Linked DNA regions of Homo sapiens. The protein of the gene in region 4 purifies or fractionates together with the protein of the main gene of each other region. This does not show direct contact. Each region holds a gene or a part of one and is shown on either strand. Other genes may lie near its edges.

What was found.
Region 1: the proteins of CTPS1 (region 4) and CFAP298 purify together in Homo sapiens (affinity purification with mass spectrometry; one large-scale study listed by BioGRID and IntAct). This does not show direct contact.
Region 2: the proteins of CTPS1 (region 4) and GSPT1 purify together in Homo sapiens (affinity purification with mass spectrometry; one large-scale study listed by BioGRID and IntAct). This does not show direct contact.
Region 3: the proteins of CTPS1 (region 4) and BCAR3 purify together in Homo sapiens (co-immunoprecipitation; one large-scale study listed by IntAct). This does not show direct contact.
Region 5: the proteins of CTPS1 (region 4) and DFFA fractionate together in Homo sapiens (co-fractionation; one large-scale study listed by BioGRID). This does not show direct contact.
Region 6: the proteins of CTPS1 (region 4) and PINX1 purify together in Homo sapiens (co-immunoprecipitation; one large-scale study listed by IntAct). This does not show direct contact.

The regions. Positions count from the first base shown.
Region 1 is NC_000021.9:32,602,378-32,607,198, forward strand, and holds part of CFAP298 (cilia- and flagella-associated protein 298), read right to left. Parts: intron 1,907-4,821; coding exon 1,748-1,906; intron 916-1,747; coding exon 784-915; coding exon of another isoform or gene 712-783; exon of another isoform or gene 1-711. Other genes in the region: CFAP298-TCP10L (uncharacterized protein LOC110091775), read right to left, coding at 784-915, 1,748-1,906. UniProt on the Homo sapiens protein: Plays a role in motile cilium function, possibly by acting on outer dynein arm assembly. Seems to be important for initiation rather than maintenance of cilium motility.
Region 2 is NC_000016.10:11,887,683-11,892,730, forward strand, and holds part of GSPT1 (eukaryotic peptide chain release factor GTP-binding subunit ERF3A), read right to left. Parts: intron 3,458-5,048; coding exon 3,380-3,457; intron 69-3,379; coding exon 1-68. UniProt on the Homo sapiens protein: GTPase component of the eRF1-eRF3-GTP ternary complex, a ternary complex that mediates translation termination in response to the termination codons UAA, UAG and UGA.
Region 3 is NC_000001.11:93,587,093-93,592,140, reverse strand, and holds part of BCAR3 (breast cancer anti-estrogen resistance protein 3), read left to right. Parts: exon of another isoform or gene 1-173; intron 174-973; exon of another isoform or gene 974-2,721; coding exon 2,722-3,164; intron 3,165-5,048. UniProt on the Homo sapiens protein: Acts as an adapter protein downstream of several growth factor receptors to promote cell proliferation, migration, and redistribution of actin fibers.
Region 4 is NC_000001.11:40,977,633-40,983,341, reverse strand, and holds the start of CTPS1 (CTP synthase 1), read right to left. Parts: upstream 3,647-5,709; 5' UTR 3,513-3,646; intron 3,313-3,512; exon of another isoform or gene 2,781-3,312; intron 2,751-2,780; exon of another isoform or gene 1,356-2,750; coding exon of another isoform or gene 1,348-1,355; intron 1,303-1,347; exon of another isoform or gene 1,231-1,302; intron 65-1,230; coding exon of another isoform or gene 52-64; coding exon 1-51. UniProt on the Homo sapiens protein: This enzyme is involved in the de novo synthesis of CTP, a precursor of DNA, RNA and phospholipids. Catalyzes the ATP-dependent amination of UTP to CTP with either L-glutamine or ammonia as a source of nitrogen.
Region 5 is NC_000001.11:10,465,217-10,470,264, forward strand, and holds part of DFFA (DNA fragmentation factor subunit alpha), read right to left. Parts: intron 4,123-5,048; coding exon 3,961-4,122; intron 2,117-3,960; coding exon 1,974-2,116; intron 1-1,973. UniProt on the Homo sapiens protein: Inhibitor of the caspase-activated DNase (DFF40).
Region 6 is NC_000008.11:10,833,376-10,836,875, forward strand, and holds part of PINX1 (PIN2/TERF1-interacting telomerase inhibitor 1), read right to left. Parts: intron 1,401-3,500; coding exon 1,291-1,400; intron 1-1,290. UniProt on the Homo sapiens protein: Microtubule-binding protein essential for faithful chromosome segregation. Mediates TRF1 and TERT accumulation in nucleolus and enhances TRF1 binding to telomeres. Inhibits telomerase activity. May inhibit cell proliferation and act as tumor suppressor.

The DNA.
Region 1 (4,821 bases), on a different chromosome or scaffold from region 4:
GAGAGCAGAGCAAATTGTGGATTAAGGTGTTCTTAGAGTGACAATCCTGAAGTTACAACAAATGTTTTACGATTGCCTTTGCCGGCTACTAAAGATAAACAGGTCCCCCATGTCTGATCACCCGAAGTGAAGCATCAAGGGAAGCCTTGGTCTTGAGCAGCCCTGAGCCCTGGACTCTCACTGTGTGGAGACCAGAGGCTGCACGATACCATCTCTGTCTTGACCATTCCCAAGGCAGACACTGCAGGCAGGTCCAGTGGGAAAGGGAGGATGCTCAGAGCCACGGACTCTGGATCTACATAAGGTGGAGGGCCCCATTTCCCCAAAATCACAGCCTAGTGACGTAGGAGCACCCACAAAACCAAGGCGGCCCCTCAGGTTACAGCGCTACACGATGTCCTTCAAAGGTCTCGAACCTTTCCTCCTCCCCCTCCTGTACACAGCATCAGCAGTTTGAAAAAGCCTGAAATCAGTGACGGGCGAAATTTTACATTTCAAGGAACATATCTGTTTACTTGCAGCCCTATTTTTACGCTTGAAATTAACATAGTATATTTCCTCTCCCCCACATATTAAAACAAACTCTAGATATTGGTACTCAATCCATATTTTCTTCCAGTTTTTGTTGGTGTGCAGGAAGAGGATATTTTTAGTTTAAACCCGAGCCAATAAGATTAAAATATTTGTACCAGTAGTTTAAATCTTTCGGATTCACTGTACATTTTTATCAGTTTGAAGGGAAATAACAAAAACTACTGACACATTAAAGCAAAAAGTACTTACTTGCTGAATCTTGGCGATAATTTTGGTTTTTTCATTCTTCCCCACGTAGTCTGAAAGCTTCTTCGTTCTTCTCAGCTCCTTGGCTGCCCACCACAGCTGCGCCTCTGCCTCTTTAATGACGTTGAGCCCTGCCTGGGGCCAGTCGTAAGAATGGCTTGACTGTGTGTTCCCACCCAGGGGGCAGAGCCCAGCTGAGCCCCTCCCAGCAGGGGGCAGGGGACAGATTTCTCCCCGTGCTCACCATGGGAGGCCTGACTCCCGCACCTCACTCTAAGTCCTTGCTGACTTTAGTACCTTCCCTGTTAAGTTTCCACTCATGCCCTGACTCAGTTAACTTCCTCCTCTGGACAACAGGGAGATCCTATCTCATTTGCACCTTGATCCATATAGTTCGTCTTAGACAGATCTGTAGGCCACTGCCAGGGAAGGGCACTGGCATCGTGCTGGGTGTTTAAATCGAGGTATAAAGGGGCTGCCTGTTTACTTCTGCATATTTCATTTATTTAACATGGCTTAGACAAAGAATATTGTCCAATAGGATAAGAAGTGAGAAAACCCAAGGAAAATGGAACATGAGGGTCAGAAAATAACATGAAGCAACAGGTAAGACTAGAAACACAAATTTCCATGCAAAGGGACTGACGCATTTGGGTAGAAATAGGAAGAAATTAGGTAGCTGGCTTCCTAGCAGCCAAAGACAGTGGAAATGTTTGCAGTCACTCCTGATGAGCGGCCTCACAAACTGCGTCCACTGCCTCCTGTGTGTGGGGCCAAACCCCTCACTCATGAGTACCCACTCTCAGGGGCTGCTCCTGAATTCAGAACTCTGCTCTGAAGCAGGGCATAGCAAACCTGAAAGCTGTGTAGGGAGCAAAACACTACATCCAGAAGAGGGGCATCAAATCTTAAGGGCTTTGGGGGCCAGGAACTCAACCTCCAGAGTACCCACTCACAAACTACGTACCTGTGTTCCCGACAAGTCTTCCTTATTTTCAAACTCCATGCGGATGGGATCATACGGTGGCAACCCCATGGGGTAAACAATCATCACCGCGCCTCGAAGCTGGTCCAAGGCATCTTTCACCATCTCCATGGTAACACAGACACCGGCTTCCACTTGTTTCTGCAAGCAGAAAGCCATCGTTATCTACAGTGTGGCTAATCACTTCCATAAATTCGATCAAGATCTTGTACAAGACCCTTGCCAGATACTGCCAGAGCAACAAAAAGAAATCAAACAGTTCTTGCTCCCAGAGTGACTACCATCTATTTCAGGGGCTGAGCGAAGCACACCGTGGCCTGTATTATAAAGCAGACGGTGAGCAGCACTGAGCATGGAGTACAATGAAGTGCAAAGAATTCTCAAAGGAGAAAGAGCCCAATGCTGGCAGCACAGATGGCAGTGAGGATCGGGAGATACGGCAGGGGGAGCAGGCACCGCAGGTGGGCCTCGAAATGCAGATGGGCTGAAAAGGTACAGATGGCAGCAGGTGCTTCAGGACAAGCTGAAACAAAGAAAAGCAGGCGCCAGCCCCCTCAGCATGGGGCAGGAAGGAGAGAAGATGAGGCCAGCTCTAGCTGGATCAGCTGAAGTTTGTTTTTGAATGGCCACAAAAGCCAGGCTGAAGAGTTCACCTTTCCTCTGTTAGGCCACGGGAAGCGACTGCCTTTTCTGGGAAGGAGTGGTAATGTTGAGAGATTTATCTTGTAGCTGATATAGAACAGACCTAGTTGGCCAGATGTGGTGGCTCACACCTTATGTAATCCCAGCACTTTGGGAGGCCGAGGTGGGCAAATCACCTGAGGTCAGCAGTTCGAGACCAGCCTGGCCAACATGGCAAAGCCCTGTCTCTACTAAAAATACAAAAATTAGCTGGGCGTGGTGGCAGGTGCCTGTAGTCCCAGCTACTCAGCAGGCTGAGGCAGGACAATTGCTTGAGCCTGGGAGGCAGAGGTTGGAGTAAGCCAAAATCGTGCCACTGCACTCCAGCTTGGGCAACAGAATAAGACTCTGCCTCAAAAAAAAGAACAGACCTAGTTGGAGGGAGACCAGGTAGCAGGCTCTGAAGAGTACAGAGGAAGGTGTGATGAAATAACAAATATATCTGGTCTTTGCTACTCAGTTCCAGGCACAGAGCTCCAAAACTCTTGGAATTTCCTGAGTGACAGGAGTGTCTTGTTATTTATAACGAGCCCCTTCTCACCATACCTGAGCTTGTGCTAATACAGTAACCTGTAGTCCGCGCTGGGTTTCAAGGAAGGGGCTGGCCGTGCCTGGGAGACCAAGCACATAATTAGAGGGTTGGAGCTTTCGGCCTCACTCCCTTCCTCCACCTCCAGGCGCTAGAGGTTGGGATCAAACACGTGGCCAGTGGTTTAAGCCATCATGCCTACTGAACAAAAACGCTATAAAAATCCCAGACATCATGGCTCAGTGAAGCTTCCTGATTGGTGAAGACGTTGATGTGCCGGGTGACACACATCAGTGGGGGCGTTGTGGGAAGCTCCAAATTTGTAGTCAAGCTGGACACAAGTATGGGTGGCCTGGGGACCTCACGTGCAGCTGGTGTCTGAAATAAGAGGAGTCTTGTTGGTGATCTCACCCTTTAACTTTTAGGTCTGATGCTAACTCCAGGCAGTTAGTGTCAGAATTGAAGGATCTGCCCTTGACCTGTGGGGTCTGTGCTGTCTCTGAGTAGTTAGTGTCAGAACGGAATTGAATTGACTGGCAGGACCCCCAGTGGGCATCAGAATGCAAAAGGCTACAGGAGAGCCTTAAAGAAAGCCACAGCTGTGGAAGTGAAAGGAAGAGGTGGACTTAAGAGGCATCATGGGAGCAGACGGTACAGAACCCCACTTCAAACCTAGAGGTGACAGAAGGGAGAAGTGTTGAAGATGACACTGAGGATTTGCCCTATAAAACCAAGACACTGTGGTTCTGTTACTGGAAACAGAGAAGCTCATAGGAGGTGCTGATTCTCAGGGACAGAACAGAGAGGGAGAGGAGTGAGGAAGCAAAGAGCTCATTTCTAGAAAACTGGACTTCAAAGTGCTGACTGGGTGTTCAGATAGAACCATCTCACAACCAGCTGGAAATTCAGGTTGGAAGTGAAGCAAGATGTCAGGGGGAAAGGATGGAAGCTTCAGAGTTATCTGCAGAGGGTGGAATTTGCATTTGGCAGAGTAGATAAGATACTGAGAGAGGAAGAAGACCAAGGATAAAAAGTACTTTCAGAAGTACACAGGCAAAGGGGAGAAGTGAGGCGACCGAGAGAGGAGTTCCACAGCAAAGTGTGGGGAGAAGGGTGCAGAACAACAGCCAGACCACTGTTTTCTTGCCATGGCCTGAGACGTGCTCACATGCCTAGATGCCATCACCACGCAAACGACGGGCTCAACCAGGGCCTCTCCTGTAGAGCTTCATAAAGCCTTTCCTATATTAACAGGCACAGAGCTTCAGGGCAGCCTTTGCTGAGGCTCTTCAAAGATTAGTCAAAAGCTTGGTAAGTTTGAGAAATATTGGTTTAAAAATAACAGTTCTGCTGAGCAAACCAGGAGAAGCAGAAGAAAAAGTGGTGATCAGTCAAGAGACTTGCAGTTGAGAGCGGTAGCAACTAATATCACCAACACACAAATACAAGCAACAGATACAGATACCACTTCTTTCAATAGCCTTAAATTCTCTTCCTCCAGATACACATTATCTGTATATCAATGGTATAAATTTACGCTCCTCCCTCTATAAACTAGCCTTTGTATAAAATGCTGAAGACAATTACAAAAAACCATTTATATCAAATACATATTAAGTCAATCAAGTGTCTGGAGAGCTACTCGATGGCCACAATATTCAAATCTCCCCTACTTAACTTTGTTAAGTTCTTCAAAAAGGTAAAAGAAATGAAATCAACATTTGTATTATACATATTTGTATTATACGTGAACCTATATTTACATAAGCCAACAAAAATTTGTGTCTGCCTGGAGGAACGGAGAGGCCTCTGGGCAACCGTCAGGATTATGAAAGGAAAAGCTACA
Region 2 (5,048 bases), on a different chromosome or scaffold from region 4:
GACCCACTTCTACTGTTTTACCCTTGTCTCGTTCTTCCTGATTTGTGTCTAAGGCCCAAGACAAGTACCTGAAATAATTTTTAAAAAAAGAACAATATTCCTAAGAACATCAGAGTTTTTAGGATATTCTTCACCATTAAAGATATAATGGATGACACACAACACCTAAATCACGAACAAGATTGGTGAAATGAAAATTGAGCCGGGTGCGGTGGCTCACATCTGTAATCTGAGCACTTTGGGAGGCCAAGGCGGCGGATCACAAGGTCAGGGGTTCGACACCAGCCTGACCAACATGGTGAAGCCCTGTCTCTACCGAAAATACAAAAATTAGCTGGGTGTGGAGGAGCCCACCTGTAGTACTTAGGAGACTGAGGCAGGAGAATCGCTTGAACCTGGGAGGAGGAGGTTGCAGCGAGCCAAGACCGTGCCATTGCACTCCAGCCTGGGCGACAGAGCAAGGCTCCGTCTCAAAAGAAAACAAAGAAATTGAAAGAATAGGGCTGGGCGCAGTGGCTCACGCCTGTAATCCCAGCACTTTGGGAGGCCGAGGCTGGCAGATCACCTGAGGTCAGGAGTTCGAGACTAGCCTGGCTAATATGATGAAACCTCATCTCTACTAAAAATACAAAAGTTGGGCATAGTGGTGCACACCTGTAGTCACAGCTATTTCGAAAGCTGAGGCAGGACAATCGCTTGAAGCTGGGAGGTAGAGGTTGCAGTGAGCCAAGATCGTGCCATCGCACTCCAGGCTGGGCAACAGAGGGAGACTCTGTCTCTCAAAAAAAAAAAAAAAGGGCTAGGTGCAGTGGCTCATGCTTGTAATCCAAGCACTTTGGGAGGCCAAGGCAGGCGGATCACCTGAGGTCAAGAGATTGAGACCATCCTGGCCAACATGGTGAGACCCCATCTCTACTAAAAATACAAAAATTAGCTGGGCATGGTGGCGGGCGCCTGTAGTCCCAGCTACTCGGGAGGCTGAGGCAGGAGAATCGCTTGAACCCAGGAGGCGGAGGTTGCAGTGAGCTGAGATCGCGCCACTGCACTCCAGCCTGGTGACACAGTGAGACTCCGTCTCAAAAAAATAAATAAATAAAATAAAACTGAAAGAATGTATTATTTTGATTCAAACCCTTAGAGCTTTTATATAAACGCAGTCAATTATACCATCTAGAACTTTATGGCAAGTTGACTACACAGAAAGACTAACTACAAATGCCAATATCACTGTGTGTTAAGTGATAATGAGCTCCCTTATTACTTCATTTTTATACTCACATGGCACAAAATACAACACAAATAATGGCTGTCTTGAGAGTTAAAGGGTAATAATAAAACTTTTTTGGATGGATGCTGTGGCTCACGCCTGTAATTTCAGCATTCTAGGAGGCTGAGGCAGGCAGATCACAAGGTCAGGAGATTGAGACCATCGTAGCTAACACGGTGAAACCCTGTCTCTACTAAAAATACAAAAAATTAGCCAGGCGTGGTGGCGGGTGCCTGTAGTCCCAGCTACTTGGGAGGCTGAAGCAGGAGAATGGTGTGAACCCAGGAGGTGGAGCTTGCAGTGAGTGGAGATGGAGCCACTACACTCCAGCCTGGGCAACAGAGCCTAGGTCGTGCCCGGCACCCCCACCCCTCTTCTTCTTTTTTTTTTTTTTTTTTTTTTTTTTTGGAGATGGGAGTCTTGCTCTGGCCAGGTTGGAGTGCAGTGGCACCATCTCGGCTCACTGCAACCTCTGCTTCCCAGGTTCCAGCTATTCTCCTGCCTCAGCCTCCCAAGTAGCTGGGATTACAGGTGCCCACCACCACGCCCGGCTACTTTTTGTATATATATTTTTTGAGATGGAGTTTAGCTCTTGTTGCCCAGGCTGGAGTGCAGCAGCACCATCTCGGCTCACCGCAACCTCCGCCTCCCAGGTTCAAGTGATTCTCCTGCCTCAGCCCCCCGAGTAGCTGGGATTAGAGCATGCGCCACCATGCCCAGCTAATTTTGTATTTTTAGTAGAGACAGGGTTTCTCCATGTTGGTCAGGCTGGTCTCGAACTCCTGACCTCAGGTGATCCGCCTGCCTCGGCCTCCCAAAGCGCTGGGATTACAGGCGTGAGACACTGTGCCCGGCCATTTTTGTAGTTTTAGTAGAGACAGGGTTTCACCATATTGGCCAGGGTGGTCTCGAACTCCTGACCTCAGGTGTGATCTGCCTGCCTTGCCTCCCAAAGTGCTGAGATTACAGGCTTGAGTCACCGCGCCTGGCCCAATAAAAGTTGTTTTCCTTTTTTCTTTTTTTTTTTTTGACATGGTGTCTCACTCTGTTGCCCAGGCTGGAGTGCAGTGGTGCAATCTCGGCTCACTGCAACCTCCGCCTCCCGGGTTCACGCCATTCTCCTGCCTCAGCCTTCCAAGTAGCTGGGACTACAGGTGCCTGCCACCTTGCCCAGCTAATTTTTTGTATTTTTAGTAGAGACGGGGTTTCACCATGTTAGCCAGGATGGTCTCGATCTCCTGACCTCGTGATCCGCCCGTCTTGGCCTCCCAAAGTGCTGAGATTACAGGCTTAAGCCACTGTGCCAGGACTAAAACTTTTTAATAAAATAAAAAATAACTGTCCTCAGATATTTTTGAAAACTGAAAGCCACTAACGCACCATGTGGGAGCAATGGTTACTTGCTAAAAATTGCTTCAATATCACACTGCCAGGCAAAAATTCATATAAATTCAAACCATCCGTAATAGTGGGCATTAATTTAGCTTACCTCATCATCTTCACAGCATGTCCTCAATTTTTTATAACAACACTGACTAGCATTTCTCCCGCTTATTTTAGAGGAATATAATTTTATTTTAAAAAAATGACTGTCAATATCCCATTGAGGTAAGGCTTGCTAACTTTTTAAAAATAAAAGTAACAAGGTTAGAAAACAAAAAAGTTGACTGTCTCACCATTCAAAGGCAACCACTGTCAATAATTCCATTCCATTTTATTTCCAGCATTTATTTATATAATGGTCATATCTTAAGTACAGGGATGTTTCCTGCTTCCCCCCAACTGCCACCACAACGCAAGTTCTATTCATGGTTACTATAAATTATGTAAATGTAAGTTTTCAGTGGTTGCAAAATCACCCAATTAAATGGATGGTTTATAGTATTTTCAACAAGTCTATCACCAGATATATGGATTGTTTCCAAATTTCTCTGTGTAAGTTATTAAAGCATTAGGAACTCATCTACTGTGTATTATGAGGAGAGGGGAAATTTCCTTTGTTGTGATACGATTTTAGACTTCAACAATTTATATTTTAACAGGCTCCAAAAGCACTAAGTGGGCATCGTCTCCTTAAAAGTAATTTATAAGTGTCATAAAAGTTTACTATACCAAGTTTCTCTGTTTTTCTCTTTAGCTTCTCTTTCATACTTTTCAAGCGTCCTTTTGTCAACCATTCCAGTCAAATACCTGAAAACATTTAAAGAAAAAAAAAAGTAAACAATTACTCACAAATTACTCAGTGGAATTAGGAAAACGTGAAAATTGTCGAAAATTTCAACGTCAGAAAATAGTTATTTTATATGTGTGTGTCTGTCTAAAAAAATATAAAATATATATATAACATATATAACATATTTTTATATAAAATATATTACACATTTTTATATAAAATATATATATTACATATATATATATATTTTTTTTTTTGAGACAGAGTTTCGCTCTTGTCATCCACCTGGAGTGCAATGGCACAATCTCGGCTCACTGCAACCTCTGCCTCCTGGGTTCAAGTGATTCTCCTGCCTCAGCCTCCTGAGTAGCTGGGATTACAGGCACCCACCACCAAACCCGGCTAATTTTTGTACTTGTAGTAAAGATGGGGTTTCATTACGTTGGCCAGGCTGGTCTCGAACTCCTGACCTTGGGTGATCCACCTGCCGCAGCCTCCCAAAGTGCTGGGATTACAGGCGTGAGCCACCACGCCTGGCCATATTTTTTTTTTTTTTTTGAGACAGGGTCTCGCTCTGTCGCCTAGGGTGGAGTGCAGTGGCGTGATCTCAGCTCACTGCAACTTCCTCCTCCTGGGTTCAAGCGATTCTCCTGTCTCAGCCTCTCAAGTAGCTGGGATTACAGGCGTGTGCCACCATGCCTGGCTAAGTTTTTGTATTTTTAGTAGAGACTGGGTTTCACCATGGTCAGGCTGGTCTCGAACTCCTGACCTCAAGTGATCTGCCAGCCTCAGCCTCCCAAAGTGCTGGGAATACTGGCATGAGAACCACCACGCCTGGCCAGAAAATAGTTAAAGTAAAGGAACCACTGGTGGATGCTAAAATTATGGAAAGTGTAAGTGGAAAAAGGATATTTACAGTCTCGAATTAACAGACAAAGTGGCCTGGTGTGATGGCTCATGCCCGTAATCCCAGCACTTTGGGAGGCTGAGGTGGGAGGATCCCTTGAGGCCAGGAGTTTGAGACCAGCCAGTGCAACACAGTGAGACCATCTCCACATAAATATTAAAAAATTGGCCTGGTGTGGTGATGCATGCCTGTATTCCTAGCTACTTGGGAGGCTGAAGTGAGAGGATCACCTGAGCCCAGGAGTGTGAGGTTACAGTAAGCTATGATTCCACCACTGCACTCTAGCCTGTGTTTAAGAGCAAGACCCTGTCTCTAAAAAAAACAAAAAATCAGGCCAGGTGTGATGGCTCATGCCTGTAATCTCAGCACTTTGGGAAGCTGAGTTGGGAGGACTGCCTGAGTCCATGAGGTTGAGGCTGCAGTGAGCCATGATTACACAACTGCCCTCCAGCCTAAACAACAGGGAGACCCTTTCTCAAAAAAACAAAAAAAACAAAAAAAACAAAAAATAAAAAATGGCCGGGCACGGTGGCTCAGGCCTATAATCCCAGCACTTTGCGAGGCCAAAGCAGGCGGATCACAAGGTCAGGAGTTCAAGACCAGCCTGACCAACATGGTGAAACCTCATCTCTACTAAAAATACAAAAAAATTAGCCAGACGTGGTGGTGCATGCCTGTAATCCCAGCTACTTGGGAGGCTG
Region 3 (5,048 bases), about 53 Mb from region 4:
CTCTAAAAATGACTTCATTTAGACCCTTCTCTAAGAAGACCTTGGGAAGAGCTGAGGTCAAGAACCCAAAGCACACATCCACATGTTCAGGAAGTGAAGGGACAGCCAGCGCTCCTGGGGTCTGCAAGCACAGCGTTGTGGGAGGCAGCAGCCACAGAGTCAGTAACCGGAAGAACTAGGAGGGCGGGCTGTGGCCCAGGTAATTGAACTCTTGGCCAGCTGCCAGCAGCCTCAGACCATTTGCAGCCCCTCCTTCTCAAGGCAGTGGCTTAGCTTCGGGAGGAGAGAGGGCAGGTGGCCCAGATCAACAAGGCTGCCTCTGCCCCATTGAGCTGGCAGTTATTCACACTCTCCATCACTTCCCTACTGGATCCTGTGACCCAGAGGTGGGAAAAAAGGGGAATTAAACCCATGACCACAGACTCATGGCCCAGAATATACTTTGTGATCGTCATTTGGGTGATTGCCATAAATAATGTTTTTTCATTTAATACTGTAAAAATTGAAAAATAGAGTAAGTCTGCAGAATTGAGGCATAGAATTTCCCTTGGGTTTTTATTGTAAACCTGATCTGGCCAATCATTAACCAAGGACAACATGACAGGAAGTGTGTGGACAGGGGCTGGGGGGAAGGGCATCATGTCGTAAGTTTTTTTTCTTTTTTTTGAGACAGAGTCTTACTCTATCACCCAGGCTGGAGTGCAATAGCACAATCTCAGCTCACTGCAACCTCTACCTCCTGGGTTCAAGCGATTCTCCTGCCTCAGCCTCTCTGGTAGCTGGGATTACAGGTGTCCACCACCATGCCCTGCTAACTTTTATATTTTTAGTAGAGACGGGGTTTCACCATGTTGGCCAGGCTGGTCTCGAACTCCTGCCCTCAAGTGATCCACCCACCTCAGCCTCCCAAAGTGCTGGGATTACAGGCATGAGTCACTGTGCCCAGGCTTTTTTTTTTTTTTTTTTTTTTTTAATGTAGTAGATTTCTTGGCACAATCAAATAAATAATTATTATTCTGACTTTGTTTTTTTAAGTTTAAAATTGATTGTAGAAAACATAGATAGCAAAAAGAAGGAAATTAAACTCTTATCCATAATTCTCCTCATAATTCTCCTGGGGATAACCACGATGAATACTTTTGTGTACATACATCCTCCCGGGCTTTTTGAAATCAAGTATGAGATTGTACTACATATACTTTTTTGGTAGCCCATTCTACTCACTTACTATGTCCTGGGAATTTTCACCCACTGTAGAATATTCTTCTGCACCAGCCTACATTGTATGTCTGTCCACGGTATGCATGCACTACAATTTACTGGACACATAGGGTGTTTCTAATACTCTGACCAATATCCTTTAAGATTGCTGTGTTCATACCTACAATTATTTTCACAGGCTCAATTCTAAGAAGTGGCATTTCTATGTGAAAACATTTTTAAGGCAAAGATGCAATTTTAAAGTAACCATGGTAGCCTACTATTTTGACCTAACAGAAGTATACTGTTGATCAAATGTTGGAATGTTCCAGAAAAATTGTCAGAATTATAAAACCGATACTATCACCACCGTCCGTCTCCTTATCATGGTCATTACATTCGTTTACTACTTGCATGAGTATTAATTTTCAGTGATAAATCGTTCCAAACTGGATAACTGAACACTATAACCATAACCGTAATAACGAGTTATTGCTAACATTTTAGCCCCTTAAATCTTTGTAGCCATTCTATAGGTAATATTATCATTTGTGTTTTTCAGATGATATAAGTGAGCCACAAGGAGATTATGTAATTTGTCCAGAGTCATACAGCTGAGCCAGGATGCAAACCCAGGTGGTCAGGCTACAGGAACAGCCAGGCTGCACCACATTATAAATTCTCCAGTTGCTGTAAGCAGCAGCATCATGCTTGTTAACTATTTTTGAGCATCCACTGTGTTCCAGTGCTTACATATGTTATGTATACAAATACATAACCCTGATAGTAACTGTAAGATGAGGGACCCCAGCCTGACTTTGTTCTAGGCCTTCTAGCCAGTAATTGGTGTGTCCAGAATCTATACCCCAGTCCTGCATGTGGACTCCTCCTCCCCACTGGCCAGGCCTGGAGAGGGGCATCTTAGGAGAGGGCCCCTAGGATGACTTCTAGACACCAACAAATACCCTTCTTTCTCTTCACTCCACTTGTTGGGGAGGGAAAATCAGGCCTGCCAGGCACACATTTTCTCATTTCTTATTTCCTGTTTCATTACATCATTCAGGTCTGTATAAACGTCATGTTCTTGTGACACCTCCCCAACCACCCTATTTTACTGGACAGCCCTCATCCCCTCCCCGGCACTTCCTGCCTCCTTTCCTGGTTTACTTCTTCCCTGACCTTACAGCTGACATACCATAGCCACTGGTTATTTATCCTCACTAAAACAGAAGCTCCCCACCAAAAACAGGAGCTCCATAAGGTGGGCTCTTGTGTGCCACTGTCACCACTGCATCCCCTGAGCCTGCAGTGGTGCTTGGCACGAGTAGGTGGTCAGTGAATAGTTCTTGAATGAATGATTGGCTCTTCTATGAATTTGATCTTTGAAAAACTAAAGAGCTGACCCAAGAAGAGACATAGTAGCATTGTCTTCTGTTGGCCCAGAGAAGTGGGTAGCCATAAGCTTTTAGAAGGAATGTGAATTTGCCTTTCCTACTCCTCACTCACCTTTTTGTCCCAAAGGTGTCTGAAAACCTTGTGCAGCGAGATGGTGACTTCCTAGTTCGTGACTCTCTGTCCAGCCCTGGGAACTTTGTCCTGACCTGTCAGTGGAAGAACCTCGCTCAGCACTTCAAAATCAACCGGACAGTTCTGCGACTCAGCGAGGCCTACAGCCGCGTGCAGTACCAGTTCGAGATGGAGAGCTTCGACTCCATCCCCGGCCTGGTGCGCTGCTACGTGGGCAACCGCCGGCCCATCTCCCAGCAGAGTGGCGCCATCATCTTCCAGCCCATCAACAGGACGGTGCCTCTGCGGTGCCTGGAGGAGCATTATGGCACCTCCCCAGGCCAGGCCCGGGAGGGCAGCCTCACCAAGGGAAGGCCGGATGTGGCCAAGAGGCTGAGCCTCACCATGGGTGGCGTCCAGGCCCGAGAGCAGAATTTGCCCAGGGGAAACCTCCTCAGGTAGGTCAGGGCCTCCTCTGCAGGACTATGAGGGGCGCCGGGGTGCCCAAGGTTAGTTAGGCAGGTGAAGAATTCATCATGGAACAAAGAAATAAAAGATGTTAATAGGAATGCCGACTGTTCGCAGAATAGCTGTCACGAGGCAGTGAACAATTAGCTCCCAGCTGAGCAGTGTCAGCAATGAATGGTACAGGAGCTGAGGAAGAATTTCGGGGGGTGCTGATGGGGATACCTTGTGAAGGGGGTAGACTTAGGCTGGTCTGATGGCTGGGGGAAATTTGGATAGATGCTGCAAAGGGCTGGGGGTGTTCCAGGTGGGAGGCATAGCATGGGCATAAGTGTGGGGACAGAAAATGGTATGAAGAGCTTGAAGTGAATGTGCTGGTAGGGCTGGAACAAAGGGTCTGTGCAAGGGACCCGTAGCAGTGGGCTTAGGGAGATAGCCCCAGCCAGATCATGGGGGCCTTAATGCCAGGTGCAGGGCTTTAAGGGAGCTGTACAGACTCAGCATAGCGAACACGGTGTCCTAAGAATAGAAATGGACAGTGATGTACCGGGGGTGAGGAGAGAGACAGGAACAGGAAACCCAGTTAGTGAGTCATGGAGGGCCCCGGCTGCAGGAGTGGAGTGGAGGGAGAGTCAAGAGATGTAGGAGCCTGGCCTCCCAGGACTCTTCTTCACGTGGTAGAGTCAGAGGAGGGCACATTGGAGACCACAGGAGTGACCAGGAGGGAGGGGACTTTGGAGGATAAAACACACTTTTTCATCTGAGCTGGAAGACTATGGGCTTGTTGAGTGCCACAGTCCAGCAGCAGTTTTGGGGTCCAGGAGGGGAGTTAGAGCTGAAAACTTAAATTAGGGCTTGGTCCACCTGGAAAGGGTGGTTCACTTGGTGAGAACAGATGAGATTTCTAAGATAGGAGATGCAGAGAACATGGGGTCTGTAGTCTGAATCTCAGGGAATGGGGGAAGAGAAAGATTCAGGGCACTTGGTGGAAAATCAAGGCTTCAAAACCTCACTGATCCTAAGCACCCAGCTGTCAAATGTCAGCGACGTTGGCCTGCATTTGTATAGGGCCCGTCTTTCACAGAGCTCAGAGTCTTTGTGCATATTATCTAAAAGCACTGGGAAAGGAAAGGAGGGAAAAGGCAGGCATCGGGGACATAGATCCAGTCCAGCCCCTCAGTCACACAGCAGCCCTGACCCGGCTCCCAGCTTCTAATCTTATGCACGTAAACCAACATATTTTATTCTACTCACTGGTTTTTTTTTTTGGCGGGGGGGTCCATGAGGAAATGTCATAAACTGTCATTTCTATACTGCAAAACTTAGGGAGGAAAATACAGGACTCTGTGTGGAATGTAAATGACAGCTGTGTGCTGCCTGGAGGCTCCGGCACATGCTAGTCAGCATCTGGCTGGGGACCCAGTAGCCAGGCACAAATGCCGGCTCCACATTGGGCAACTTTTCAACCATGGGCAAGCGACTTGACCTTCCTGGGCCTCACCTTCTTCATCTAGAAAGATGGAGCTTGTGAGGTGTACATGATTTAATATATGCAAAGTGCTCAGAACAGTGCAGGCACAGAGGAGGTGCTAGGGAAGTGCTCATGATAATTATTATCTGGAGGAGAGTAGAATGTCAGACTCAGACCCAGCACAGTGGCTCACAGCTGTAATCCCAGCACTTTGGGAGGCTAAGGTGGGCAGATTGCCTGAGCTTCAGAGTTCAAGACCAGCTTGGGCAACATGGCACAACCCTGTCTCTACAAAAAATATGAAAATTAATATAAGGAGCTCAAACAACTCTATAGGAAAAACTCTAATAATCTGATTTTTAAAATGGGCAAAAGATTTGCTCTTTTGAGAAATGAGTATTTCTCA
Region 4 (5,709 bases):
TCCTTTTCCAATTCCTGATATAACACCACCAGTAACCAGAATGTACTTCATTTTACTCTTTGACCTGGAAGAAGGAAAAATTACAGATGATATAAATGTATCTCAACAAACCAAACTCATCTGGGTTCAAACACTGGCTCTGCCAATTATTAGCTATGAACCCTCTTGAAGCCTCAGTTTCTCTGTCACAGGACTTCAGAAGGTTCTCGTCAGGTTTAAATAGGATCAAAACAAACATTTCTTGGATCACTGAATGGCTTTAGTCAAATACGTGTAGAAAAACAACTGCTACTCTAATAACACAGCTTTTGTTTAAAGCTTTGACAACTAATAACCTTCAGAGTCAACCTAATAAAACCAGCTCTAAGCTGGCTGATAGAACACTACACCCCAAATGTTTGCTGACATCACTGCCAGACACTGGGATACCAGGCAGGTGCCTCATTATTTTCCCTACATGGGAAAAAAATTCAAACTTGGATAAGTACTCCAGTTCTCCAGGAAATAAATAATGTCTTTGGCTAAACTACAACATATCATCAAGAAAACACAGCTCCTCTAGGTTACAAAAGATAGACTAAAAGGAAAGAACATCAACATTTAAAAGTGGTTGCAGCTAAACCAAAATTCCTTTAATTAAAAGTAGTTCTCTGGCTGGGCATGGTGGCTCATGCCTGTAATCCCAGCACTTTGGGAGGCAGAGCCAGGAGGATCACTTGAGGTCAGGAGTTCGAGACCAGCCTGGCCAATATGGGGAAACCGCATCTCTACTAAAAATACAAAAATTAGCCGGCTGTGATGGCGCACGCCTGTAGTCCCAGTTACTCAGGAGACTGAGGCAGGAGAATCGCTTGAACCCAGGAGACAGAGGTTGCAGTGAGCTGGGATCATGCCACTGCACTCCAGCGTGCGCGACAGAATAAGACTACCTCAAAAAAAAAGAAAAAGTAGTTCTCTTCTATAATTTAACAACAACTTGCTCCTTGTCAGAAATCTCTCCCAGGCATGCAATGAAGAGAGACTGTAAATACTGGGGGAGAGGGACATCAGATAAGAAACCAGTCTGAAGCACATGACGGGCAGAGGACTCAAAGAGAGGGGAGATGAGATTAAATCCAAAAAGCAGTGCCACGGTGGCAGGGAAAGGAGAAATAAGATATAAGGGCAGCAGAGTCAAGATGCAGGTGAAAACAGCATCGACAAGAGGTGAGGAGACCGTGACAGGCTCACCACGGAGGATTTATCACTGGTCCCCAGCTTCAGAGGTCCAGGATCGTCCATTTGGTCAGCAAACCCAAATGTGACCAAAATGAAAAACACAATTAGAAAGTAGCAGAAAATGCTTACTTTGGCATGGTCAGGACATTTTCCTCCTCAGGAACGTTCCATGTGAAGCCAAATTATGATAAAAATAAACTAAGGAACAAGAAAACTAAGGAGTTGTGCTCGAAGCATTCCCCCGCCCCACCCCCTCCCCAGAGCAAGAAAGAACACACTTGGCAGGGAAGGAAGAATGCTCAGAAGTCTTCCCCGCTCCAAAGGCTCTTTGCATCCTCTGCTGCAGCATTTCCAAAAGCATGCTCCCTGGTTTCAACAAAATGCACATGGGATTCTCAAAAAGGGTGTTATGGATATAAATCAGAGAAACGCTGATTAAACCAAGTCATTTAACGCAAGAATCCTGGGAGTGTTTAGCAAGTAAACTCGCACTGTGATCACTGCTATACAGTATGCGGTGTCTCCAAGCTTATCTGACCCTAAGTCTCTCACTTTACAGTTCCTTATTGACACATGAAAATCAGTCTTAGGTACATTTTAGATATGTTCTAACCAGACATATACCTTACTGAGACTATACCCTGGTCTCCCTAAGTTTTGGATGATCCTAGAAATTCCTCTGCCACCGAGTGAGTTACTTCTACAAAAGATTCATCTCATCCAATTACATTTGATTTGTCCCAATTTTACTCTAAGAGTTTAACATCTCTCTTTACGTTCTTTAGTTTCTCTCTTTAGATTCTTGCAGTCTCAGTGCCTGGCAATACATATGCCAGTGTACATAAAGATCAGGCGGGAGGCTCATTCATTCATCCTTATGGGCTACTGACTTACATGACAGCTACTGTGCTTGGGGACTGCAAACATTAATCAGATTTGGGCCCATATCTCAACTTTCTGGCAGTCCAGTTGGAGAGATGAAACATTAACAAATAAATGAGTAATTCAGTGACGGTGGAAGCAGACAGAAAACATGTTTAGACTATAAAGGGGGACGATGAGAGCAGACGCTTTCAGTACCATGGCCATCAGAGGAAGGTGAGACAAGTCCTGGGGGTAGTGGGCGGATCCAGGCGGCTCCTGTTTTGTAGATATGACTTGCAATGGGCCTTGAAGGACTGACTGCACGACTCAGAGCACAGGAAAGGGAACAGGGTGAACAGGCAGGTGCAGGGCAGCTACAGAGAACAGAGGTAAGGCCGTGAGGGGGAAGGCGGGGAAGCAGGGATATACAGTGGAAGATAAACTGGAAAGGTAGGCAAGGGCCAGATCATGTGCAAACTGGCATGCCCAATCTGAACTTAATCCTGAAGGTGACGGAAGGCGCAAGAAGGTTTTCCGGCACAGAAGTAACGTAAATCAAGACGCATCAGAGAAATTCAACAAAGACTGAGGGGGGAAATGCTTTTTCTTTCAATGTTATGAGATGAAGTGCCAGCCCCCATCACTAGTGTGCAGACCTCAATCATGTCACTTGAGCTGCCTGCAACGCGGGTTCTCACCTAGGGGAATGGGGGTGAGAATCTCTGCGCCGCCCGCGTCACAGGGCCGCTGAGGATTCGAAACTGTAACGAGCGTGGACGGAAGGGCGCCACGCAAACGTGGTGAGCTCTATACACCGCCAGCGCCCCGACCCCCGGCCGCCGGGAAGGGAGGAAGCCGTGAGGCCCAAAGGCCAGCCGCGGGGCCCAGGGCCGGCGAGTTCGCAGGCCCCCTCGTCCTACGGCGCGGAGCTGCCGCGCCCAGCCCCGGGCGGCTGAGCCCGCGCCGAGGCCGGAGGCCCGAGGCCCGCACTGCTTGAATGGATGGGCGACTGCCGGGCTTCCTCGCAGACGAAGAGCAAGGGCGGAGGGTGTGGGGGGGGGCGCCGCTCCACTCCCCTACGGCCTTCTCCGTCCGACGAGCCCGGCCGAGCTGATTCGGCGCGGCCCAGCGCGGCAGCGCAGGCCCCGCAGCCTCTGAAGCCGCCCCGCGCCCCGCTTGGCCCCTCTCCCCAGCGCCGCCCGGCCACGAGGCCCGCGCGCGGGAGCCGGCAGCTCGCCGGCCGGGGCGCCCGCCCCACTCCCGTTAGGCACACAGCCCATTGGGCAGGACGCCGAGTCACCTCGCCCCTGATTGGTAGGAGCGACGTCCGTCACCGCGGCGGCGGGGCTATTCGGCGCCGGGCTCAGCTCGCGCCGCTGACTCCTGCGCGGGAGAACAGATCCCCCCCGGGATCCCTGGAGTCAGCCTACCTGCGGCCGGCTTCAGATCCTCCCGTCAGCGACAGAGCTGGGCCGGCGACGCGCGCGGAGCCCCGGACAGCCAGTGAACAACCCCGACCGCATGCGCCCGGCAGTCTTTCACGGAGGCGGGCTCTAGGCTGTGCGCACGCAGAGGTTGGAGGGCGGGCCGGGCCTGGAGGGCGCGGGGCGGGGCGGGGCCTGGAGTGCGCAGGCGCGGGACAGGACCGCTGGGCCGCCTCCGCTGAACTGTGCCGCCGTAGGTTCGAGGCCGGGCGGGTGGTGGCGTGTCTGCCCCTCTGCTTCCGTCCCAGCCTGTGGCCCAAGCTTACTCTCTTGAAGGGGAGGAGGCTGTTTGGGAACTCACGCCTGGCCTATTCGTCACCTGGCCTCGCGTCCTCCCACAGCGGTCTCCTGGAGTTCTGGGCGTCGCCTTCCATCCGATGGTCTTTCACTGTGGGCTCCTGGCGGTGATGCGCCAGCGCATCTCTGCCTCCGGGCGAGGGACGGCGGCAGCGCCACCCTGGCCTCCAAGACGGAAGTGCGGAGGGTCGCGCGGCGTTGGCTCCTCGTCGGCCTCCCTCCTCCCCACACCTGCCCCGAAGGCGGCTGCTTTGGATGGACTAGGATCCCGAAAAGTACGGTTTCATCTAGCTATCGCTCCCTGAGCACCGACTGTGCCACGCACTGTGCTGGGCACCGAGGGACCCTCTCCTCGGACTAACGATGTAGGGAGGCACACTGAGCAGCTCATTACACTTTATGGTTGTTATGGGTGCTTGCTGCAGAGATGCTGGTGCCGGGGCAGTGAGTGCCCAGCGCGGGGACTGACCCAAGTCCGGTGGTGATTGGGAATTCAGGCGGGAAGCCCGCCCTGAAAAAGTAACTTTGAAGCAGAGACCTAAGTAGACGGCAAAGATGGGAAAGGGAGAGGCGGGGATAAGAAAGTGAGACATGCTTGAGCCCAACAGTTCGAGACCAACTTGGGTAACATAGCGAGACCCCGTTTCTTATAAAAATAATAATAGTAGGCCGGGCGCAGTGGCTCACACCTGTAATCCCAACATTTTGGGAGGCCGAGGCAGGCGGATCACAAGGTCAGGAGTTCAAGACCAGCCTCGCCAATATGGTGAAACCCCGTCTCTACTAAAAATACAAAAATTAGCTGGGCGTGGTGGTGGGTGCCTGTAGTCCCAGCTACTCAGGAGGCTGAGGCAGGAGAATAGCTTGAACCTGGGAGGTGGAGGTTGCAGTGAGCCAAGATTGCACCACTGCATTCCAGCCTGGGCGACAGAGCGAGACTCCTTCTCAAAGAATAAATAAATAAAATAAAAATAGTAATAATAATTTTTTTTTAAAAGTGAGGCAGAAGGAAAAGCCTGTGTACAAGCCCAAAGAGGCCGGCACAGCTGAATTGGAAGGCCAGTCTAGCCAAGTCCACAAGGGCCACAGGAAGCGAGATTAACATGAGATTAGGTTGAAGAGTTGGGTAGGGCCATACGGTGAAGAGCATTATAGACCAAGTAAAGGCTTCTCTTTCTCCTAGGGATAGTGGAAAGCTGTAGAAACTTTTGAGAGGCTTTTGACCTTCCTTTGAATAGTGAATATATGTACATGGTTATAATTTTTCCCCAAACACTACACAAGGGTATCCATGAAAAGTAAATCTCTTATTTCTGTACCCCAGTGTTCCTGTTTTGTTCTCTAGAAGCAGTCTGCCACAAGTTCTTAACTATCTTCACTGAAGGAGTTTTAAAAAAAAAGATGTGATGGGATCAGATTTGTGTTTTAGGAAAATCATTGAAGCAGATGGATTCCCAGAAACCAGGTCAGGAGGCTCCTGCAGTGGCCTCTTTTAGAGGCTTCTGGCTCCTTCCAGATCTGGATCACCAGTGCTTCAACCCTGACAACCTGCCCATGCTGCATTCAGCTCCAAATCTAAAAAATGTTTGGAATGCCAGGCATAGTGGCTCACACTTGTGATCCTGACACTTTGGGAGGCTGACACAGGGTGGGAGGATTTCTTGAGTCCAGGAGTTCAAGACCAGCCTAGGCAATATAGTGAGACCCCATCTCTACAAAAAATACAAAAATTAGCTGAGCATGGTGGCACGCATCTGTAGTCCTGGCTACTCCAGAGCCTGAGGCTGGAGGAATGCTTGAACCCAGGAATTCAAGGCCAATGGGAGCTAGGATCCCACCACTGCAC
Region 5 (5,048 bases), about 31 Mb from region 4:
CCTGAGTAGCTGGGACTACAGGCACACGCCATCACGCCCAGCTAATTTTTGTAATTTTTTTGTTTTTTGAGACAGAGTCTTGCTCTGTCTCCCAGGCTAAAATGCAGTGGCGTGATCTCTGCTCACTGCTACCTCCCCCTCCCAGGTCAAGTGATTCTCCTGCCTCAGCCTCCTGAGTAGCTGGGATTACAGGTGCTTGCCGCCACGCCTGGCTAATTTTTATATTTTTAGTAGAGACGGGATTTCACCATCTTGGCCAAGCTGGTCTTGAACTCTTGACCTTGTGATCCACCCTCCTCAGCCTCCCAAAGTGCTGGGATTACAGGCGTTAAGCCACCGTGCCCGGCTGTATTTTTAGTAAAGACGGGGTTTCACCATGTTTGCCAGGATGGTCTTGATCTCTTGACATCGTGATCTGCCCGCCCCGGCCTCCCAAAGTTCTAGGATTATAGGTGTGAGCCACCACGCCTGGCTTTATTTATTTATTTATTTATTTTTGAGACAGGGTCTTGCTTTGTTGCCCAGGTTGGTGTGGTATAGTCATGGCTCACTGAAGCCTTGACCACCTGGGCTCAAGTGATCCTTCTGCCTCAGTTTCCTGAGTAGCTGGAACTACAGGCACACGCCACCACACCTAGCTAATTTTTGTAGAGATAGGGTTTTACCACATCAAACTCCTGAACTCAGGCAATCTGCTCACCTTGGCCTCCCAAAATGCTAGGATTACAGGTATAAGCCACTGCACCTGGCCTACAAAAATTAAAAAAAAAAAAAAAGAAAAAATAGCGCAGTGTGGTGGTGCAAGCCTACAGTCTCAGCTACCTGAGAGGTTGAGGTGGGAGGATGGCTTGAGCCCAGGAAGTCGAGGATGCAGTGAGCTATGATCATGCCACTGCACTGGGTGACAAAGCAAGACCCTGTCTCAAAGAGAAATTTTCTTTGAATGAAAACATACTGTTTTTATCCCAATCTTTTTTTTCTTTTTGAGATGGAGTCTCTCTCTGTCACCCAGGCTGGAGTGCAGTGGTGCGATCTCGGCTCACTGCAAGCTCCACCTCCTGGGTTCAGGCGATTCTTCTGCCTCAGCATCCCGAGTAGCTGGGACTACAGGTACAGGTGCACACCACCAGGCCCGGCTAATTTTTTGTATTTTTAGTAGAGATGGGGTTTTACCATGTTAGCCAGGATGGTCTCGATCTCCTGACCTCGTGATCTGCCCGCCTCGGCCTCCCAAAGTGCTGAGATTACAGGCGTGAGCCACTGCACCTGGCCTATCCCAATCTTACTAGAGAGAAAACACAAGGAGAGAAGCTAAGCTACTGGCTCAAAGTCGTGGTGACAGCGCTGGGATGTGAAGCCATCTACTCCAACGCTACATTCTCTAGCAGGGCATCCCTGACCCCAGCGTCCACCTAACTAGGTTTAGGGTGGATCCCAGGCATTTGTATTAAAAAAAAAATCTGGCCGGGCACGGTGGCTCACGCCTATAATCTCAGCACTTTGGGAGGCTGAGGCAGGTGGATCACTTGAACTCAGGAGCAGCCTGGCCAACATGATGAAACGCTGTCTCTACTAAAAATACCAAAATTAGCCAGGCGTGTTGGTGTGCACCTGTAATTCCAGCTACCTGGGACGCTGAGACAGGAGAATTGCTTGAACCCGGGAGGTGGAGACTGCAGTGAGCTGAGATTGCACCACTGCACTCCAGCCTGGGCGACAGAGTAAGACTGTGTCTCAAAAAAAAAAAAAAAAAAAAAAAAAAATCCACAGGTAATTCTGCTTCGTGACGAGGGTTGAAAAATTACTCTAGGTGAGAATGAGAAGATGAAAAATCTTAGTTGTAATTTAAGAATTATTTAAAAATTAAGATTAAAACAAAGAAATTGCTATGGCAAGTATGGAAGCTAAGAAGGTGCTGGGGCGGGGGGCAGAGGCTGGATGAACATTGTTGCAGGTTGTGGAGGAGGCTTTACCTGGAGGTCCTCCTCTGATAGGAGGATGATGCTGGACAGATCTTCTTTCAGCTGCCTGGCCACATTCTTCCACTTCAACCCTGCCCCGCTGTCTGTTTCATCTACATCAAAGGACTCTTGGGAAATCCAAGCTGTACCTCCATCTGACACATGGGAGAAAATGCCAGTCACAGAACAACCTGAAGTGCTGTTTTCACCTCCTCCCCCAGCACACACAGACCTCTTGAGGATCTAGATTAATTTCAATGGGAAAGAAGCATCTTATCTCAAGGATTCACAGGAGGGTCAATATCCATCCAGGACCTTGATTTTCCCTCTTCTTTCATTTTTTTTTTTTTTGAGACAGAGTCTCACTCTGTTGCCCAGGCTGGAGTGCAGTGGCACGATCTTGGCTCACTGCAACCTCCACTGCCCGAGTTCAAGCGATTCTCCTGCCTCAGCCTTGCAAGTAGCTGGGATTACAGGTGCCCACCACCATGACCAGCTAATTTTGGTATTTTTAGTAGAGACGGGCTTTCACCATGTTGGCCAGGCTGGTCTCAAACTCCTGACTTCAAGTGATCTGCCCACCTCGGTCTCCCAAAGTGCTGGGATTACAGGCATAAGCCACCGTGCCTGACCCTCTTTCATCTTTATCTCTGTGTGCAACGGCTCTGTATTCTTCCATAGAAAAAGCCATTTAAACCCAATGTGTGGTCACACCTACAAGGAATCCAATCACACTTCCCTTTCTGGTTTCTGTGTGTCCAGGTGTGTCCTGTTTTTTATACGAAAACGGTCATTTGTGCCAGCATTTCTCTGTGCTTGGGGATTGGTCCCTTCTTTAACTGGCAGAGCTGTAGCCATCGATTGCTGTCCCTTAGGCCTGAGCACAAAGGTGGCTGGTAGGGCCACTGCTGTAGGATGACTTCCTCAATTTTGTGGCACACTTCAGGACACTTTTTTTTTTTTTAAGTCCCTCCCTAAAACTAATCCCCTCTCAAGACACTTCTTGATCCTTGGTCACCAATGTTAGTCCCCTTTCTATCTCCTGTGATGATGATGATGGCAGGGACAGGTAACAATTATTGAGTCCTTAACTATGTGCCAGGTAAGATCTAAACACTTCATATCAGTGGTTCTCAAGTGGGAGCAATTTTGCCCCCCAGGAGACATCTGACAATATCTGGAGTCATTTATTCTTGGTTATCACAGTTGTGGGGGGAGGTTCGTAACATCTAGGATGCTACTAAACGTCCTATCATACACAAAGCATCCTCTTCACAACTCCAGCCCCAAATGTCAGCAGTGTCATTGAGAAACCCTGGTTTGATATGTACTATATTATCTTTACAACAATCTTAGGGGACAGGTTCTATAATTATTATGTCAACAAGGCACTGAGAAGTTATGTAATTTGCACAAGGTCACCTGGTTAGTAAATGGTAGAGCCAGGATCCAGACCTCAACAGCTGGACTGCAGCCTGCAGCACTGAGCTCCCTGCCAGGCTGCATTTCAGTTGCTGTCTGTCCATGAGTTAGTTGAGAACTGGGCCCATGTCTCATTCATCTATTTTTTTTTTTTTTTGAGACAGAGTCTCGTTCTGTCGCCCAGGCTGGAGTGCAGTGGCACAATCTCAGCTCACTGCAACCTCCACCTCCCAGGTTCAAGCAATTCTCCCGCCTCAGCCTCCCAAGTATCTGGGATTACAGGTGCCTGCCACCATGCTCAGCTAGTTTTTGTATTTTCAGTAGAGATGGACTTTCGCCATGTTGGCCAGGCTGGTCTCAAACTCCTGAGCTCAGGTGATCTGCCCACCGTGCCTGGCCTCATTCATCTTTATCCCCAGGACTCAGCACCATGTCTGGCACATAGAAAGTGCTCAGTAAATATCTGTTGAACAAATGCTTAAAAAGCCAGACAAATGGCAATTGTCTGTGCAGTGAAAGTAATCATGATGGATGCTGTACTGCATAGGCCGTTTTATACATGGCTAGAGTTTCTTACCTGAATTGTTGTATGCCCATTTCTCATTACTAGCCAATGCCACAAACTTAGTATTGGAAGGTAGACACAGAAAGTAATCGTCATCATCCACTATGGTGCCATCCTCTGCCAGGACCAGGGTGACTGGTGTCAGGGACTTATCAATGGCCAGAATGTCACAGGCTGAAAAGAATAAAATATTTGGCAAATGACAAATAACCGTAAGGAAATTACATCTATCCCTGCATCTCAAGTATGTATGGCTCCAGAGCTGAGCAGAACTCCTGGTAGGTAATAACTAGAATCACAATCATCACTTCTAGCACTACCAGAACACTCATCACGTGCCTGATTCTGTTCTAAGTGTTCTTTTCTTTTTTTTTGTAGCAGGGTCTCACTCTGTTACCCAGGCTGCAGTGCACTGGCGCGATCTCGGCTCACTGAAACCTCTGCCTCCCAGGTTCAAGTGATTTTCCTGCCTCAGCCTCCCGAGTAGTTGGGATTATAGGCGTGCACCACCATGTCCGGCTAATTTTTGTATTTTTAGTAGAGACGTGGTTTCACCATGTTGACCAGGCTGGTCTCGAACTCCTGACCTCATGATCCACCCGCCTTGGCCTCCCAAAGTGCTGGGATTAGAGGCATGAGCCACTGTGCTCAGCCCTAAGTGCTTTTCTTTCTTTCTTTTTTTTTTTTTTTGAGACAGGCTGGCGTGCAGTAGTACAATCTTGGTTCACAGCAACCTCCGCCTCCCGGGTTCAAGCAACTCTCTGCCTTAGTCTCCCGAGTAGCTGGGACTACAGGCACCGGCCACCGTGCCTGGCTAATTTTTGTATTTTTAGTAGAGACGGGGTTTCACCATCTTGGCCAGTCTGGTCTGGAACTCCCGACTTAATGATCTACCTGCCTCGGCCTCCCAAAGTGCTAGGATTACAGGCATGAGCAACCGCGCCTGGCCTAAGTGCTTTTCATATACAGTATTTAATCTCATAATAATCCTGTAAAGTAGGTACTTTTATTAGTTCTGTTTTATAGATGATGAACCCAAGGCTCAGAGAGGTTAAGTAACTTGTCTAAGATCACACAGTAAGTGGCAAAGCTGGGATTTA
Region 6 (3,500 bases), on a different chromosome or scaffold from region 4:
TAAGGATGACATGATCTAATTTCCATATTTTAAAAGATCATTCTGGCTGCTGTACAGCAAATGGGCCAGAGGAGAAAAAGGAGGGAGGAAGGGAGGCAGCTGAGAGTCTGACCAGTCAGTGAGCTCAAGTGATGACAGTGGCTGAAGCAGGGCTCTGCCCTGCATGGAGAAGAGACGACTGGGGTGCGGGAGGCTGGAGAAGAGACGACTGGGGTGCGGGAGGCTGGAGAAGAATGACAACTGGGGTGCGGGAGGCTGGAGAAGAATGACGACTGGGGTGCGGGAGGCTGGAGAAGAATGACGACTGGGGTGCGGGAGGCTGGAGAAGAATGACGACTGGGGTGCGGGAGGCTGGAGAAGAATGACGACTGGGGCTGCGGGAGGCTGGAGAAAAACGACGACTGGGCTGCGGGAGGCAAGAGGGCGGAGGAATCAAGCATGACTGTCAGGTTTCTGGCTTGTGTAAGTGGCAGACGGTGCCATGTATGAAAAATGGGGAAAACCTGGGAAAAATATATTTGGGGGAATCAAGAGTTTTATAATAGAAATGATACCCTTGAAATGCTTACTCAAGTGGAAATATCAAGTAGGCTATTGAATTTACAAATCTAGAGCTCAGAGGACAGAACTGGACTCAATATAGAAAAATGACAGTTCCCAGACTTTAGCTAATTCAAAGTGTGGCAAGGGAATGAATGAGATCACTGCAGCAAAGTGCAAAAAAGGGGCCTGAGGTTGAGCCTCAAGGAGCCCTAATAATCAAAAGTCTATAGAAAGAAGAGACAGCAACAAATTTAGGAGTGGCAAGTGAGGTGAAAAGAAGAGCAGAAGAGACAATAGCACTGTGGAGGCCAAGACAGAAGTATTTCAAGGAGAGAGTAGTCAATTACATCCAGCACTGCTGAGGAGTTAAGTAATGTGAGAACAAAACAAGCGGCCCACTGATTTGGCACTTAGAGATCGCTAAAGACCTCAACAAGAACCATTTAAGTGTAGAGGTATCAGCAGAGGCTCTACTGGAGTCAAGAATAAATGGAAAGGGAAAAAGCGTGTAGCCTAGTTGCAATGTCTATGAAAGATGCTAAGCATGGCAGCTTAAATGATAGAAAGTTGACACTTATGTCCAATCCTAATTTATCATCATAAGGTCACAACAATTTTTGATTTGGGATCAAAATCACTTACTGATCCAAAGCATAAGTTTCTTCCAGTCTCCTAAGAAGGAAGTTTTCCCCTAATTTCTAATCTCTTTTCATAGCTCAGATTTTTTTCCGCTTTTCTCCAAAATACCTTTCCTTTAGACCACCCCATCTTCTCTAGCATCCGCTGGCCAAACTTGGAATCGTCATTACTCCAGGCAGTGTTCTGAGGATCCACAGCCCACTTCTGCTTCCGCCGACCTGTAAATGAAAAAGCATTATCATCAGCAATGGAGATGATACCCGGAAAATACCACACAAACATACACATGCACAACTTTGTGTATTTTATGTATGTATGTAAAATATGACATACATTACAATACAGAAATTAATTCAACACTCAACAGAATGTTAGACTGGATCATTTATCCTGATTTCCCTAATAAATGTATATTCTAGACATATAAGTTGACCTCTTAAGATTAAAACTGAAATGTTCCCTCATAATGTGGCAAAGCAAATGCTCAATATACTAGAGCTGGGCCTTCCATACTCCGCCATCAGCACAACTGAAAGCACCTGTGGACACCAGCATCCTCATCACCATCAGCAGTAGTAGCAGCAGCATTACAGCTTCCATTGCCATGCGTTACTACATACAAAAGAACATGCAATACCAAGGATGCGCTTAAAATAGTAAATGCCAATTATTCAACCTGAGACCTGCTCCAAACGCTGTACATAATATTCAGTTTTCACAGTACCCCAACGAGTGTGGATAGTACCATTGTCACTGGCAGATATGAAAATCTGAGGCTTAGAGAAAGAAATTTGCCGAACATCCCCAAGCAAAAACCAGATCCTTTAAACCAACCTTGGTCCTACTAACTTCAAAGCTTATATTCTTAATTCACAACATACAATAGTCATTATGCTCTTGGGGAGAGTCAACTGTACCCTCCACACATGTGACCTACAGATAATAACAATCCCATCCCTCTCATTGAGATGCCCTGAAGCCCTCTGACCCCTCTTTGAACTTCTAGAATAACTTATCTGTTTCTTAACATCCACTGTATTAGGGCTATTTATATCCGCCTTTCCGGTTTCCCATTAGACCATCATCTCCTTAGGGCTCATATTCATGTCTTTTTTCTGAGGCTTCATTGCAAGAAGTAAAAAAATCACTGTGCCCACAGCAGGCACTCAATAAATATGTGAATGGAATAAACGATAAAAATGAAGAATGGAAAGAGGAAGAAAGGAGGAAAGAAGAGGGAGAGGAAAAAAGGAAGGAAGGAGTATAACTGAATTAAGGGAACTGCTTTGAATCTCATCAAAGCAACTTTTTTTAATGCATATAAATTACTGATCATTATGAACTCCAGTTTATCACTGTCGTTTTAAGGAAAATTATGGCAAAAATAAAGAACTCCAAAGGTTCAAAGCACAAGAATGTCAAACTGAAAAGTAGACTGTGGCGAAATGAGAAATTTGGAGGTGTCATTATCATTTATCTGCCACATCAATATAAGCACATTGTCTCACCATCAACACAACCCCTCCTACCTTGCCCATCTCATCACATAATTAAAAAATAACATGACCCCCTGTCAAAGGGGCTCACTGTGGCACACATAAAATCAATAGAGGCCCATAACTATGCACACTCCAGCAAAAATAGGAAATCCTTTACAAATACACAGGCAGAAAAAAAGGCCCTTAACAAAGCAAAACAAGTTGGGCTCGAATTTGTAGTGTTTTGCAGAAAAAAAAAGGTGACCCAAAAATGTTCCATCTAAATTACCACTTTACTTATCTTGGCAAATACTCAGCATAACACTGCGTCTGCTAATGAACAACACACCAGAGAGAAGCCTGTTAGCCAGTATTCTATATGCAAGCTGGCATCAGTGTGTCAGAGTTCATGTGTCTATGCAGTGCTTGCCAGGGGTCTTTGACTAGGGCTTGTACGAAGGAGACAGTTTTGAGAATAAGCTCACGCTCTGCAGTTAAGAACTGCACACGCTTCACATTACCTACTTATATAAAACAAACTATAATGCCTACACAAGAGATTAGCTATTCAAGGTCAATTCCTCTCCCCTGGGAAAATGGCAGTTAGCTTCAATCAATGGGATCACACCAGTGTTTCCAAACAAGGATGTTGGGGGGGCGGGGGGTGGCAGTTTCCCATTGAAAATGAGTAACACTGGGTTAAACTAAATTTCATATGGAAGAATCTCCCGGAAACTTTACTATGCAAATGTGCAGATCCTCTTAGAGGAGGCCAGAGCAGGCCTGCCATGCTTCCCAGACTTCACTTGACCAGAACCCTGCTTCCCTGGAACATTTCCC